Homo sapiens: one gene and its partner. The protein of the gene in region 1 interacts with the protein of each later gene in a pairwise test. Each region holds a gene or a part of one and is shown in the gene's direction. Other genes may lie near its edges. The genes, in order: AMER3 and AMER1.

The links.
Region 2: the proteins of AMER3 (region 1) and AMER1 interact in binary tests that used the Homo sapiens proteins (3 or more experiments, as listed by UniProt).

The regions. Positions count from the first base shown.
Region 1 is NC_000002.12:130,751,120-130,758,662, forward strand, and holds the start of AMER3 (APC membrane recruitment protein 3), read left to right. Parts: upstream 1-4,420; 5' UTR 4,421-4,555; exon of another isoform or gene 4,556-4,763; intron 4,764-5,224; exon of another isoform or gene 5,225-5,262; intron 5,263-7,543. UniProt on the Homo sapiens protein: Regulator of the canonical Wnt signaling pathway. Acts by specifically binding phosphatidylinositol 4,5-bisphosphate (PtdIns(4,5)P2), translocating to the cell membrane.
Region 2 is NC_000023.11:64,188,709-64,196,267, reverse strand, and holds part of AMER1 (APC membrane recruitment protein 1), read left to right. Parts: intron 1-2,883; 5' UTR 2,884-2,981; coding exon 2,982-6,389; 3' UTR 6,390-7,559. UniProt on the Homo sapiens protein: Regulator of the canonical Wnt signaling pathway.

The DNA.
Region 1 (7,543 bases):
CTGGAAAAATGGGCCAACAGAGCCAAATGTTTTGATGGAGGGATTAGGGAGAGGCAGGAGTTTGTGTGAGTTCTCTTGGTGACAGGAAACAGTTTATACTTGTGGATGCCAAGTGTGGGTGGGGTTGGGAATCTATGCTCGTTGGCCAGGGGCTCTTTCAGGCCCCTCCCCCACCCTTGTTGGAGTAGACAACCCCCAGGTCCAACCAGTTTCAGAACCTATCATTTTGCTAACCCAAGCCTTTTTTTTAAGACAGAGTTTTGCTCTTGTTGACCAGGCTGGAGTGCAATGGCGCGATCAGCTTGCTGCAACCTCCACCTCCCAGGTTCAAGCAACTCTCCGGTCTCAGCCTCCTGAGTAGCTGGAATTACAGGTGCATGCCACCACACCCGGGTAATTTTTGTGTTTTTAGTAGAGACAGGGTTTCACCATATTGGTCAGGCTGGTCTCGAACTCCTGACCTCAGGTGATCCACCCGCCCTCAGCCTCCCAAAGTGCTGGGATTACAGGTGTGAGCCACCGCACCTGGCCCCCAAGCACTTTTATAGGTTAAATGAGATTGTGCCAAATAAACTGTATTTCATTATTTTTTTCCCAGTGTTTAAGGGCATGGTTGTTAATAAGAGTGATAAAAACAAGAAACATAGCTAAGCCAGAGAACCTCCACATAAAATTTTAAAATAAAAGGGTTAGGGCCCGGTGCAGTGGCTCACACCTGTAATCCCAGCACTTTGGGAGGCCGAGGCAGGCGGATCACGAGGTCAAGAGCTCGAGATCATCTTGGCTAACTCAGTGAAAACCCCATCTCTACTAAAAATACAAGTGGCGGGCACCTGTAATCCCAGCTACTCGGGAGGCTGAGGCAGGAGAATGGCGTGAAACAGGGAGGCGGAGCTGGCAGTGAGCCGAGACTGCACCACTGCACTCCAGCCTGGGTGACAGAGCGAGACTCCATCTTAAATAAATAAATAAATAAATAAATAAATAAATAAATGGGTTTGAATGCTTACAAAAGTAGACTGGGACAAAGCTACAGTAATCGAAACAGTGTGGTACAAAGACAGACATACAGACCGATAAAATAGGATAGAGAGCCCAGAAACAAATCCTCAGGTATTTAGTCAAATGATTTTCAACAAGGATGCCAAGACCATTCAATGGAGAAAGGACAGTCTTTTCAACAAATTATGCTGGGAAAACTGAATAGTCACATCAAAAAATGAAACTGGACTCTTACCTTCTGCCATATACAAAAATTAACTAAAAATTGATCGAAGAGCTAAAAGTATAAAACTTTTACAAGAAAACCTAGAAAATCTTTGTGACATTGGATTTTGCAATGATTTATTTGATATGACACCAAAAGTTCAAGAAATAATACACAAAATAAATAACCTGGACTTTATCAAAATTAATGAAAACCACTCATCAAGAGTGACAAGGCAATCCACAGAATGAGAAAAAATATTTGCAAATCATCTACTGGGTAGGGGATTAACATCCAGAATATATAAACAACTCCTAGAACTCAACAATAAAGACAAACAATCTAATTAAAAATGGAGAAAGGACTTGAATAGATACTTCTCCAAAGAATATATACAAATGGCCAATAAGCATATGAAAAGATGCTCAATATCACTAATCATTAGGAAAATACAAATCAAAACCACAATGATATACGACTTCACAGCCATCCTAATGGATGGCTACTATTTATAAACAAATAACAAACAAACAAAAACACACAGAAAACAACATGTTGGCGAGGATATGGAAAAATGCTCTACATTGCTGGTGGGATGTCAAATTGTACACAGTGGAGAACAGTATGATAGTTCCTCAGAAAATTAAACATAGAAACCATTATGACTCCAATATGGCACTTCTGTGGTTTATATTCCAAAGAACCAAAAGCAGGAACCTAAACAGGTATTTGTACATTGCTGCTTATAATAGCATTATTCACAATAGCCAAAGGTGGTGCAACCCAAACGGTCCATTGACAGATGAATGGATAAACAAAATGTGGTCTCTACACACAATGGAATAATATCCACTCTTAAAAAGGAAGGATATTCTGATACATGCTGCAACACGGATACACCCTCAAAACATTATGCTAAGTGAAATAAGCCAGCCACAAAAAGACAGATACTGTATGATTCCACTTCTATGAGGTACCTAGAGTGGTCAAAATCAGAGAAAAGTAGAATAGTGGTTCCCAGCAGCTACGGGGAGAGGAGAATGGAGTTTTAGTGCTTAATGGGTACAGAATTTCTGTTGGGGTCAGGAACGTGTTTTGGCAATAGACTGTGGTGATGGTTGCACAACAGTGTGAGTGTAAATGCCACTGAACTGTACACTTAAAAAGGGGTAAATGGTAAATTTCATATTATGTATATTTTACCACAATAAAGAAAAAGAAACCGGCCGGGCGTGGTGGCTCACGCCTGTAATCCCAGCACTTTGGGAGGCGAGGAGGGCAGATCACCTGAGATTGGGAGTTTGAGGCCAGCCTGACCAACATGGAGAAACCCTGTCTTTACTAAAAATACAAAATTAGCCAGGCGTGGTGCTGCATGCCTGTAATCCCAGCTACTCAGGAGGCTGAGGCAGGAGAATCACTTGAACCCGGGAGGTGGAGGTTGCAGTGAGCCAAGATCACACCATTGAACTCCAGCCTGGGCAAGAAGAGTGAAACTCCATCTCAAAAAATAAGATAAAAATTTTTTTAAGAAAAAGAAACCAACTGTTCACTGTTTGGAAATATGAAATAAAAAAGTTTTTAAATATTGAAAATTTTAAAAGAAAAAGAAACAGCTCAAAGCAGTAGGTCTGATGGTACCCCACAAATGCAGCTGACGTGACTGGCACAGTGGATGGCCGACTCATTTGTGCCCACAGTCAACTCTTTGGCCTGCCAAGAAAGCAAGGGGTGGTGTGGCCAGAAGGTCTGAGACCCTGGGGACAACCAAGTGACCAGAAAGCTAGTTCCAGGAAAGAAAAGGTTTACAGCCACTGCTCAAAAACACAGATGAGAAATCTAAGTCAGTGTTTTGTGTGTGTTTTTTTGTTTGTTTTTTTTTTTTTTTTGAGACAGAGTCTCGCTCTGTCACCCAGGCTGGAGTGCAGTGGCACAATCTCGGCTCACTGCAAGCTCCACCTCCTGGGTTCACGCCATTCTCCTGCCTCAGCCTCCTGAGTAGCTGGGACTACAGGCGCCCACCACCATGCCTGGCTAATTTTTTTTGTACTTTTAGTAGAGAGGGGGTTTTGCCATGTTAGCCAGGATGGTCTTGATCTCCTGACCTTGTGATCCGCCCGTCTGGACCTCCCAAAGTGCTGGGATTACAGGCGTGTAAGTCAGTGTATTGTAAAAATAAAATGTAAGTTCACATTAGAATAATATTTAAGAAAAATCATTCAGTGGTATCTGAACTGGGTAGCCTAGTGTAAAAGATTTTTCCAGGAGTCCCTGGGGAAGACCTGATCCCACATCTTGGGGAAATAAAAAATTTGAAATATATATTTTCATGTTACCCAAAAGTTAGGGGTGTTTGAAAACTGTCTGAAATGACAAAGTAGAAGGGTTGGAACAGTTTGCAGTGGCCGAACGATGACCATGTGAGCATCGAAAATGAGCAATTGTCACTCACTGGAAGAAGCTGAATCTGTAATTATCCTCACAATTACATGATTTTATAAGACACATTAAAAAATCCTTAAATGCAAAAGCGGGGAGAGCCTAATAAGGAAGGCTAATGCTTACTAATTTTAACAAGAGGAGGACTGTGGGGTCTGCGGGAGTCCTACCCCTGACTTGGGGTGTATGTGGCAACGAGGCAGAAACTGCCTTCTGTCCTACCTAAGAGAAAGACAGGGAACTCCCACAGCCAGGATCTGCCAAAAAAGGTCAAGACTACCAGCAACATGGGCGAGGGGGCCTCTGGGGTCACGTTGAGTTAGTCGCTGCATAGAAAGAGGGCTCAAATCTAAAAAATGCAAGAGGGTAGGTCACCCAAGGGTGGGGAAGGTCTTGGCTGGAGGATGAAGGGGCCTCTTGTCTCTGGGGCGAGGCGATGTCAAGGGGAATGACAAACCAAACCAGTCCAAAGCAAGGGGACTCTGTGTCCTGGGTTCTCAGACAAGGTGACCGGGAGGGAGCCCACCAAGCTCAGGGAAAGGCCTGGCCTCCGTCATCCACCTGAGCTCTGCCTTCCCTTCAGCCTTAGCCTCAGCGTGGACCCGGGACTCCTGCATCCTCCCGTCCTGCCCCGCCTGGGCACACCACGGCCGAGAGCCTCCTGTTGGCATCAGCCTCTCCCCAGCACCGACTGTGCGCTCCCGCTCCCCCCTCCTCCCCACAACCCCGCCCCACACTACTGGCACTGCTGCCTGAGCCTTCCTGGAGTTACTTAATCCACCCCAGCCCCAGGCACTGAACCACGCGTGCAGACCCCTCGTCCTCAGTTCTGCGGAGACAGAGTCCCCACAGCATTTCTGCTCCTCCCTCAAGACTGCGGCAGAGCACAGCACCAGTAGACCCCACACAGTGAGTACCTGTAGGGCAAGTGCCTCTTTCGTTCTCTTAATAATAGAGTCAGGTCCCTTCTCCAAGGGAAGACCCTGCCTTGCAGCCCCAGCCTGGCCTGCCCCTTCTTGCAGGCCCGCTCCGAACCCTGGGTAAGACTCGTGACGAGGCTCCGGGTGGCCGAGCCCTTCCGAGAGTGCTGCGGTCGGCAGGGCTGGGCTGGCTCTCTGGGCTGAGGGGGAGGGGCTCCCACACCTGTGCGCTCCCGGAAGAGGGGACAGCGGCGGGGGCGCCGTGCGCACGGGGGCGAGGGGAGACGACTGCACCTGAGGGAGGCGCAGCCGCAACCGGGTGGGAGGCAGAGACACCCAGAAACAGAGACGGGGCGATACGAACAGACAAAGCCGGCTCGAGCGCGGCCCGAGCGGCGGCGCAGGGAGGCGGCAGCCTGGCGGAGCAGCCCCCACCGCGGCCGGCGCGCCCCCTCGCCACCCCTGCGCGCCAGCGCCGGCCCGCCCCTCCCGCTGGCCTCTGGCGGCTTAACCCTCGCCTGCCCGACCCCGCGGGGCCCCTGGAGCCGCGGTGGGTGGGTGCGGGCGCCGGGCCTCCCCCTCCCGGCCGCGGCGCGCGGCGCCGGGAGCTGACCGTGGTGCTGAGCGCGGCTCGCGCTCCGACGCGGTGCCCGAGCCTGTCGCGGCCGCGCCCTGCTGCACTGCGGGCCCCCAGCGGTAAGTCGCCAAGGCCCCGAGAGGCTGCGTTGGTCCTGCCCCGCGGATGTGGACCCCCGGGGAGGGCAAGGATTGGGGAATTTGGTGCATTCTCTGGCGCGATGGACGGGCTGAGGGCAGGAAGCAGGGTCGACACCCTCCACCCAGCGGTTCCCGGCGCAGTCAGGGGCCTGGGAGCGGTGACCCTTTTAGGTCTGGGCTAGGGAAGCGGAGAAACCCTCCGCCGGCGGATGCAGGAGCTGAGGGAGAGCCAATATCGCTGTGAGGCCCATCTCCTTGCCCCTGGGCAGGCCAGGACCGCCCAGAGGCGCCCTCCAAGGAGGTGGGCCAGGACCTTCCCTCCCCAGAGGGCCCTTTGTCTCCCCAGTGTGGGGGTTGGGTGGCTTGGTGGTGCTCTCACCGCAGATTCTATTTCTGTTTTATTCCCCATTCCCACCCCCACCCCAGAGCACGGTCGCTTTCCCTCCGCACAGTGGCCCTCACTCCAGCCCTCCCATGACAAGGCAGCCTACTACTGAGAACGCTATTGCCCCATAGCTCTACCGCCAGCCCAGTTTCCAGAGGTCCCTGGGCCTGCGCTTTTTTATCACCATACACTCCTTTGTATCACACTGCTGTGACTTTCCTGCATACCGGGGAAGGCATAGAAAATACCAAAACTATTAGCCAAACGTTTTTTTGTCTCAAGGCGTTTCTGTGGCATGTGTATTCCTCCAGGGTTTTTATTTTGCTCCATGAAATCAAACACCGGGACACTTTCAGGTTAAGAAAGGAAAAAAAAAGCCACGGAATTACCTTCTCAAAGGAAAAAGAAAAAGCTGGGCAGCTAAGCCTGAGTTGGTCATGTAGAAAAGCAACCAGTAGAATAACTTCATTTGCCCAATTTGCAATAAATCCATGTCTGTGTGTGCCGTGTAAAACACTGTGATGGGAGGTGCACAGACAGAGGAGTCTCTGCCACCACCTTCTCTCCCCTAAACCCTGCTTGGGCTCCTAACTCGCCTCTGTGTCTCCGCTGTCCATTTTCACCTGCATCTTTGAAAGTGAGAATTGGCCCGTCACTTGCCCTGGAAGGTTGGCTCCCTGTGGCTTGCAGATAAAAGCACGGCCCTCGCTGAGACCTCAGGCCGGGTGTGGTGTGTACAGCCCATCTCCAGGCCTCATCCCTCTGGCTTGCTGCTCTGGTCACTTGAGCTGCTTTCAGATCCTTAAATATTCTACTTCTCTTGCTCCTCGGGGCCTTTCTGAAGGGTGTTCTCTCTGCCTGGAATATGTGTCCAATGTCTTTTGCCTGGCTGTCCTCTTCTGTCTTTTAAGTTTGGTTTAAATATCACATCCCTGTAACAGAATTAATTAAGTAAATACATTGTGTGGTCCCTGTTCCCATGGAACTTGCAAGTTCGTCTTAGAGATGAAAGACTCAGCCCAGGGTCCTGGTGTCAATGCTGTCTTAAAAAATGATGCACATAGGCCGGGAGCGGTGGCTTACGCCTGTAATCCTGGTACTTTGGGAGGCCTAGGTGGGAGGATCACAAGGTCAAGAGATCAAGACCATCCTGGCTAACACGGTGAAACCCCGTCTCTACTAAAAGTACAAAAAAAATTAGCCGGGCATGGTGGCGGGTGCCTGTAGTCCCAGCTACTCAGGAGGCTGAGGCAGGAGAATGGTGTGAACCCGCGAGGTGGAGCTTGCAGTGAGCCAAGATCACGCCACTGCACTCCAGCCTGGGCGACAGAGCGAGATTCCATCAAAAAAACAAAACAAAACAAAAAACCCACCATCCTGGCCAACATGATGAAACCCCATCTCTACTAAAATTAAGAAAAAAAAAATTAACTGGGCGTGGTGGTGCGTGCCTGTAGTCCCAGCTATTCAGGAGGCTGAAGCAGGGGAATCGCTTGAACCCAGGAGACGGAGGTTGCAGTGAGCCTTGATCACACCACTGCACTCAAGCCTGGGCAACAGAGGGAGAAAAGAAAGAAGGAAAGAAGGAAAGAGAGAGAGAGAGAAAGGAAAGGAAGGAAGGAAGGAAGGAGAAAGAAAGAAGGAGGGAGGGAAGGAAGGAAAGAAGGAAGGAAGGAAGGAGAGAAGAAAATGATCCACATAAACTGTATCACAGAATTAAAATCTCAGACTCTGCATCCTGTTTAGGGAACTTAGGTGTAAACATTTGACTAAGATATCTCAAATATAAAATAGTTCATTTAACTAAGTAATAGCTCACCGCCTACTATAGTTGGAGTCCTGGACCTTAAAGAATTTTCAATCTCGTTGGGGAGT
Region 2 (7,559 bases), on another chromosome or scaffold:
TGGCCCATTCAGGGTCCCTTGGCAGATGGGAGGCTGACATGGCCTGGACCCCAGCCCTGTGGTCCATGGCTCCTTCCACAACACACTGCAGCTCCCTGTGACAGGAAAGGGGACAATACAGAGAGAGGTGAGTGGGCTGGCCTCTACCCTCACAGAGCATAGGAGCAAGGGCAAGGGAAAGCCCAAAGAGACTGTCTTCTAACTGGGGCGTCAAGGCTCTGGAAAGCAGCCTTCTTTGTGATTCAATTTGCCAAATCACTCTGTTCCCAGGAACTCCAGCCCCAAACCCAGCAGGACAAGTCAGCCTTTGATTCACAAGGATGTGTAGGTCCTAGAGTTTTTCACTTGGCTGTGAGGTTTTCCTTGAGGCCCAGCCTTACTGCCCAAGAAGTGTCTTTCTCCCTTTCACATTTATCTTGGAATATGTTTACAAGGTATAAAGAATGATACTCCACCAACCAGCTTTAGAAATAACAGGGGCTATTCTTTAAGGCAGCGGTTCCCAACCTTTTTGGAACCAGGGACCTGTTTCATGGAAGACAATTTTTCCATGGATGGAGAGGAGGAAGGTTTTGGGATAAAAGTGTTCCATCTCAGATCATCAGGCATTTGTTAGATTCTCATAAGGAGAGTGCACCCTAGATCCTTCGCATGCGCAGTTTGCAATAGGGTTCACGCTCCTATGAGAATCTAATGCCTCTGCTGATCTGACAGAAGGCAGAGCTCAGGTAATGTTCACCTTGCCCTCCTGCCTGCCGGTCACTTCCTGTTGTTTGGTCCAGTTTCTAACAGACTGTTACATATAGGACTCTCCCTGTTAGCCTAGGAGCTCCTTAGAAGCAAAGGCTGGGAGTTCTCCCTTCTTGTCCTGCCCTGAAGCACTGAATTCCAGAGGGGAATAGAATTTCACAAACAACTCCAGTACTGCCTCCCCAACTCCCCTATCCCCAACACCGTGACGATAACCTTAGCAGTAATTTTAAGGCTGAGGTAAAAATGTGCTGTGGAAAGTGGGGCATTCAGACATGATAGGGCCCCTATTCCCACCAGACCCAGGGGCAGAAAACTGGGTGATTGTGTGTTTAGGTGTGATTGTGTGTGTATTTGGAGGTGGGAGGGGGCACTGTCTATTGTGGGACTATCAGTTGCAGGGCTGAGTTGGAACAGTGTGATGTCAAAATATGTTACAGAAAAATCTCTAACCTGAGCAAATGGCAATTCAGATCTCTGCAGAGAGAGGTTCAGATGAACTTTCCTTTTCACCTGCTCTTTTCTTTTCTGGATAACCAGCTGTTATCTTGCTCCAATTTTAATATTCAGTTATGCAGAGTGTTCTTTATGGAAGCTTGGATCATCACACTGATGATTCAAGTGTCAAGCCAAGCAAGGCAGCAGGCACAAAATTAATGTTTGCAAGACAGAACCAGGGGCTCCAAGGCTAGAGTGTAGCTGCCAGCCTCTTTCCATGCTCAGTGCTGGTCCACAGTCTTCCACTTTAGGTGAATGTGTGAGTCTTATTATTATGGCAAGCAATCACAGGCCTGGTGTACTGTCCAGCTGTTCTTGGACCAAGGGTGCTTGCTTCTCTCTCCCTCTCTTACTCTTCCTTCCCTCCCCTTCCCCTTCCCCTCTCCCCTCTCCTCCCAGATTCCCCCATCTGCTGGTGCCACTCTACAGAGAGGGGACAAATTGGTGAGGGACTTCCCAGGGAGGGGTCATTGGGTTTTAGCAGGCTGGTCACTGAGCTAGCGGATGACCAGAGGTGCAGAGGTATATTGTGGTGGGTAGTGGCTAGGTCTTGTTTTTATTCCATCTCTGTTGGTATTTGGGCATTTGGAGGATTGAGAGCCTTGACCAGAAGGGTGTGGCTTGCACCAGGTTTATTTATTTAAAAAGCCATTGGGAACCTATCTCACACACCAGGAATATGAATCATGTAGGGCCTTCAAGGAGTTCCCTTCCTAGATAGGGAGCTAGATGGGGACAAAAATAATAAGAGGAGGAGAGTAGAGGAGAAACAGTCCACCTCATGGTTCTCAAGTGGAATTTGGGGTTCCATTGATGACCGCATTAAAGTATCTTCCCAGCAGGACAGCCAATAGAGGGTCTGGCTTAGACCCACCCTCATATCACCTCTCTGAGGGAGAGATATTGATAGGCCTCTTGAATGGCGAATATTGAAGCCCAGAGAGTACCTTTCTTGAGGCTCCCATTTCATTGTCTTAGCAGGTTCTAGATTGCAGACCTACTTTGTGGATGTGTGAGGCTCCTATTCTGAGATTCTGAAGCCTGAGCATGGTTCTGCAGGCAATTTAGGAAGCTTTGGATGGGAGGTGAAACTTCAGGTCCACTTTTCAGTCTCAGACAAAATGTCAGTGAGAGCCCAGACTAATATGAAACTGAAGCTTGAATCCAACAGAGCCCTGTGAGGACTCAATGGACTGTTTTGCCAGATGGTTTTCAAAAATTCTGTGATGTTGGAGCCAACATCCCTTTTGCCTTTCTTGTCTCTCCCTATCCTCATCCCCTTTGATAATTGATAATACCTCCCACAGCCAATAGCACCACTAGGCCTTTCACACAACTGCAGGTCCCCCTGCCCAGTGGTCCCCTGAGCTTAGGATGGTCTGAAGGGAGTGGACCCAGCAAGAAGGTAGGGGATGAAGGCTTCTTGTTGCTCAGTGTAGAGTTTTGCTTCCTTGGGGCCCAGAGAGAGCTGGCCCAGCAAGCCAAGCATATCGAGTGGATTAAGATTTGCCCCACATTTTCCATCATTTTCTTTCTTGTTCCACTCAAGCCTGACGTCCGGTGAAAGCAAACCCAGCCTGGATGCTTGCTCACTAGTATCTGTCTCTCTGTCTTTGTCTCTCCTATCTCCTCCAGACCCCACTGTGATGCTTCCTGACTGATAATGTTATAACAGTGCCTGGAAGCCTGAGGCTGCATTTCCAGCTGGACGTACCTCAGTTGTCCCCATCATCATGGAGACCCAAAAGGATGAAGCTGCTCAGGCCAAGGGAGCTGCAGCCTCTGGGAGTACCCGTGAACAAACAGCAGAAAAAGGAGCCAAGAACAAGGCAGCTGAGGCGACAGAAGGACCAACCTCAGAGCCATCCTCATCCGGCCCAGGTAGGCTGAAGAAAACTGCCATGAAACTCTTTGGTGGCAAGAAGGGTATCTGTACTCTGCCTAGTTTCTTTGGAGGGGGACGGAGCAAAGGTTCTGGGAAAGGCAGCTCCAAGAAAGGTCTCAGCAAGAGCAAGACCCACGATGGCCTGAGTGAAGCAGCCCATGGCCCTGAAGATGTTGTCAGTGAAGGAACTGGCTTCTCCCTGCCTTTGCCTGAGTTACCCTGCCAATTTCCCAGCTCTCAGAGTGCCCATGGGGCTTTGGAGACAGGCTCCAGATGTAAGACATCTGTGGCTGGAGCCACAGAGAAAGCTGTGGCTGAGAAGTTTCCCTCTATGCCCAAGCCAAAGAAAGGCCTAAAAGGCTTTTTTAGCAGTATCCGCCGTCACCGGAAGAGCAAGGTCACTGGGGCTGAGCAAAGTGAGCCAGGGGCCAAGGGGCCTGAGAGGGTCAGAGCCAGGCCTCATGAGCACGTGAGCTCAGCCCCTCAGGTGCCCTGCTTTGAGGAGACCTTCCAAGCCCCTAGAAAGGAAAATGCTAACCCCCAAGATGCCCCTGGGCCAAAAGTTTCTCCAACACCAGAACCTTCTCCACCAGCTACTGAGAAAATGGCCTGTAAAGATCCAGAAAAACCCATGGAGGCCTGTGCCTCAGCACATGTGCAACCCAAGCCTGCCCCTGAAGCCAGTAGCCTAGAGGAGCCCCATAGCCCAGAAACAGGGGAGAAGGTAGTAGCAGGAGAGGTAAACCCACCCAATGGCCCTGTGGGGGACCCACTGAGCCTCTTGTTTGGGGATGTGACATCCCTGAAAAGCTTTGATTCATTGACAGGTTGTGGTGACATAATAGCAGAACAGGACATGGACAGTATGACAGACAGCATGGCCTCTGGGGGCCAGAGAGCAAACCGAGATGGGACCAAGCGAAGTTCCTGCCTGGTGACCTACCAAGGAGGTGGGGAGGAGATGGCCTTGCCAGATGATGATGACGAGGAGGAAGAAGAGGAAGAAGAGGTGGAATTAGAGGAGGAAGAAGAGGAGGTTAAGGAGGAGGAAGAAGATGATGACTTAGAATATCTGTGGGAAACTGCCCAAATGTATCCACGGCCCAATATGAACCTGGGCTACCATCCCACCACATCCCCAGGCCACCACGGCTACATGCTCCTTGACCCAGTTAGGTCTTATCCTGGCCTAGCCCCTGGGGAACTTTTGACTCCTCAGAGTGACCAGCAAGAATCCGCCCCCAATAGTGATGAAGGTTATTATGACTCCACCACACCTGGATTTGAGGATGATTCAGGTGAGGCCCTGGGGCTTGTCCGCAGGGATTGTCTACCCCGAGACAGCTACAGTGGAGATGCCCTATATGAGTTCTATGAGCCAGATGACAGCCTTGAGAACTCTCCACCTGGAGATGACTGCCTTTATGACCTCCATGGTCGAAGCTCTGAGATGTTTGACCCCTTCTTAAACTTTGAGCCCTTTTTGTCCTCCCGGCCACCTGGGGCAATGGAGACAGAGGAAGAACGGCTAGTGACCATCCAGAAACAGTTGTTGTATTGGGAGCTTCGGCGGGAGCAGCTTGAGGCCCAGGAGGCACGTGCCCGAGAAGCTCATGCCAGGGAGGCCCACGCCAGGGAGGCCTATACTCGAGAGGCTTATGGCAGGGAAGCCTATGCCAGGGAGGCCCACACTTGGGAAGCTCATGGCAGGGAGGCCAGAACCCGAGAAGCCCAGGCCCGAGAGGTTCGTTGTAGAGAGACTCAAGTCCGAGAGACCCAGGCCCGGCAGGAGAAGCCCGTCTTAGAGTATCAGATGAGGCCCTTAGGCCCATCAGTGATGGGCCTGGCAGCAGGGGTATCAGGGACCTCTCAGATTTCCCACCGGGGAATTACCTCAGCTTTCCCCACCACTGCAAGCAGCGAGCCAGACTGGAGGGACTTCCGTCCTCTGGAGAAGCGTTATGAAGGAACCTGCTCCAAGAAAGATCAAAGTACCTGCCTGATGCAGCTCTTCCAGAGTGATGCCATGTTTGAGCCAGACATGCAAGAAGCAAATTTTGGAGGATCTCCCAGGAGGGCCTACCCTACTTATTCACCCCCTGAAGATCCAGAGGAAGAGGAGGTTGAGAAGGAAGGGAATGCCACTGTGAGTTTCTCACAGGCCCTGGTAGAGTTCACCAGCAATGGGAACCTCTTTTCCAGCATGTCCTGCAGCTCTGACTCTGACTCATCTTTCACTCAAAACCTCCCTGAGCTGCCTCCCATGGTGACCTTTGACATCGCTGATGTGGAACGGGATGGGGAAGGCAAGTGTGAAGAGAATCCTGAGTTCCACAATGATGAAGATCTTGCAGCCTCCTTGGAAGCCTTTGAGCTGGGCTACTATCACAAACATGCCTTCAACAACTACCATAGTCGATTCTACCAAGGCCTGCCCTGGGGTGTGAGCAGCCTCCCTCGATACTTGGGACTGCCTGGCCTGCACCCTCGACCTCCACCTGCTGCTATGGCCCTCAACAGGAGAAGCCGCTCTCTCGACACTGCAGAGACCCTGGAGATGGAGCTCTCCAATTCCCACTTGGTCCAGGGCTACCTCGAGTCTGATGAGCTGCAGGCCCAGCAGGAAGATTCAGATGAGGAGGACGAAGAGGAGGAAGAAGGAGAATGGAGCCGAGACAGTCCCCTTTCCCTCTATACTGAACCCCCAGGGGCCTATGATTGGCCTGCTTGGGCTCCCTGTCCTCTTCCAGTGGGGCCAGGTCCTGCCTGGATAAGCCCCAACCAGTTGGACAGGCCTTCCAGCCAGTCTCCATATAGGCAGGCAACCTGTTGCATACCTCCTATGACCATGTCAATATCACTATCAGTGCCAGAGTCAAGGGCACCTGGGGAATCTGGGCCTCAACTAGCTCGTCCCTCACACCTACACCTGCCCATGGGCCCTTGCTATAACCTCCAGCCACAGGCCTCCCAGAGCATGAGGGCCAGGCCTCGAGATGTGCTGCTGCCTGTTGATGAGCCCAGTTGCTCTTCCAGTTCTGGAGGCTTCAGCCCCAGCCCTCTACCACAGGCCAAGCCTGTGGGCATCACCCATGGCATTCCTCAGCTGCCCAGGGTCCGGCCTGAGCACCCCCAGCCTCAGCCCACTCACTATGGGCCTTCCAGCCTTGACCTGTCAAAGGAGAGGGCTGAGCAAGGTGCCTCTCTTGCCACCAGCTACTCCTCCACTGCCATGAATGGAAACCTAGCCAAGTAGTTATTATCAATTCTGGAGTAGGGACACGGGGCCTGAGCATGTGAATGGGGATCAGGGGTTGGGCAGAAGGGTGGGGGGGTGGGGGTTGTTGTTTAACTTGAAAACCCTTTGGGCCAAGGAAAACTCCTGTGAGTTTTCACCTTGGTTTTCCCACTTGCCTCTTCTGCCATCTATGGCCACGTTCAACTCAAGTGCATCTGCCCAGGGAGGCTGCTGCTGCTACTGCACTCCAGTTTTTGCTTTCGAGGTTTCTTCTTGTGACCCACGCTGGGTTTGGGATGCTGTAATTTTGTGCCTATTCCAGTTGCCAAGTTAGTGATTATATATATATATATATATATATATATATATATATATATATATACACACACACACACACACACACACACACACATACATACACACACACACACAAACACACATGCACACACATATATAGCATGCATCCTTGACACAGGCTAAACCTTTAGTGCCCCCTGCCCCTTTCCCCCAATGAATGATGAACCACTGATTAGCAGCCAAGTCTGCATTGCCTCCCGCTTGGGGAAGTGGGGCTTATTTGCTATTAGCAATGTGAAATTATGGTACAGATCCTCCCCACCCCTATTCCTTTTGGCCTGGCATAGCTGCCATCATTATATCAGATGACTATAAGCTATTCATCCCAGCTAGCTGTCCTTAGAGAGGATCAAGTAGCGTGTGTCTCACAGCCTATCGCTGTGGACTTTGGCATCATGACCAGATGGGGGCCTTTTAACTGTCCTGCCATAGCTTGGGTTAAAGACAAAAATGCTAATCCCCTTGATGGAGTGATAAAATTCATCCATTTGCAAACAGAAGACAAAACAAGGTTCTGTTGTGGACACTGCCATAGAGTGTTGAGCTCCGGAATGATAGGATTTTTTTTCCTTCTTTTAAGCTTGTGACTACCTGAGTTGCAGATGCTTTTGAATTTTTGTTCTTTTTTCCTCTAAAGGAAATTTTCATAATCTCATCACAAGGAACACGGTCTTTTAATTGAGATAAGGGAAGAGAAGCAACCTAAATTAGGCTTGACTATAGGGGCTGGGGTTTTTGTGGAGTGTAGGGGAAAGATAGAAAATGAGGGTCCATTTATCACAGCCAGCAAGAAAGGGGATTTCAGACCATGCAGAGCTTAAGGTATCTCAG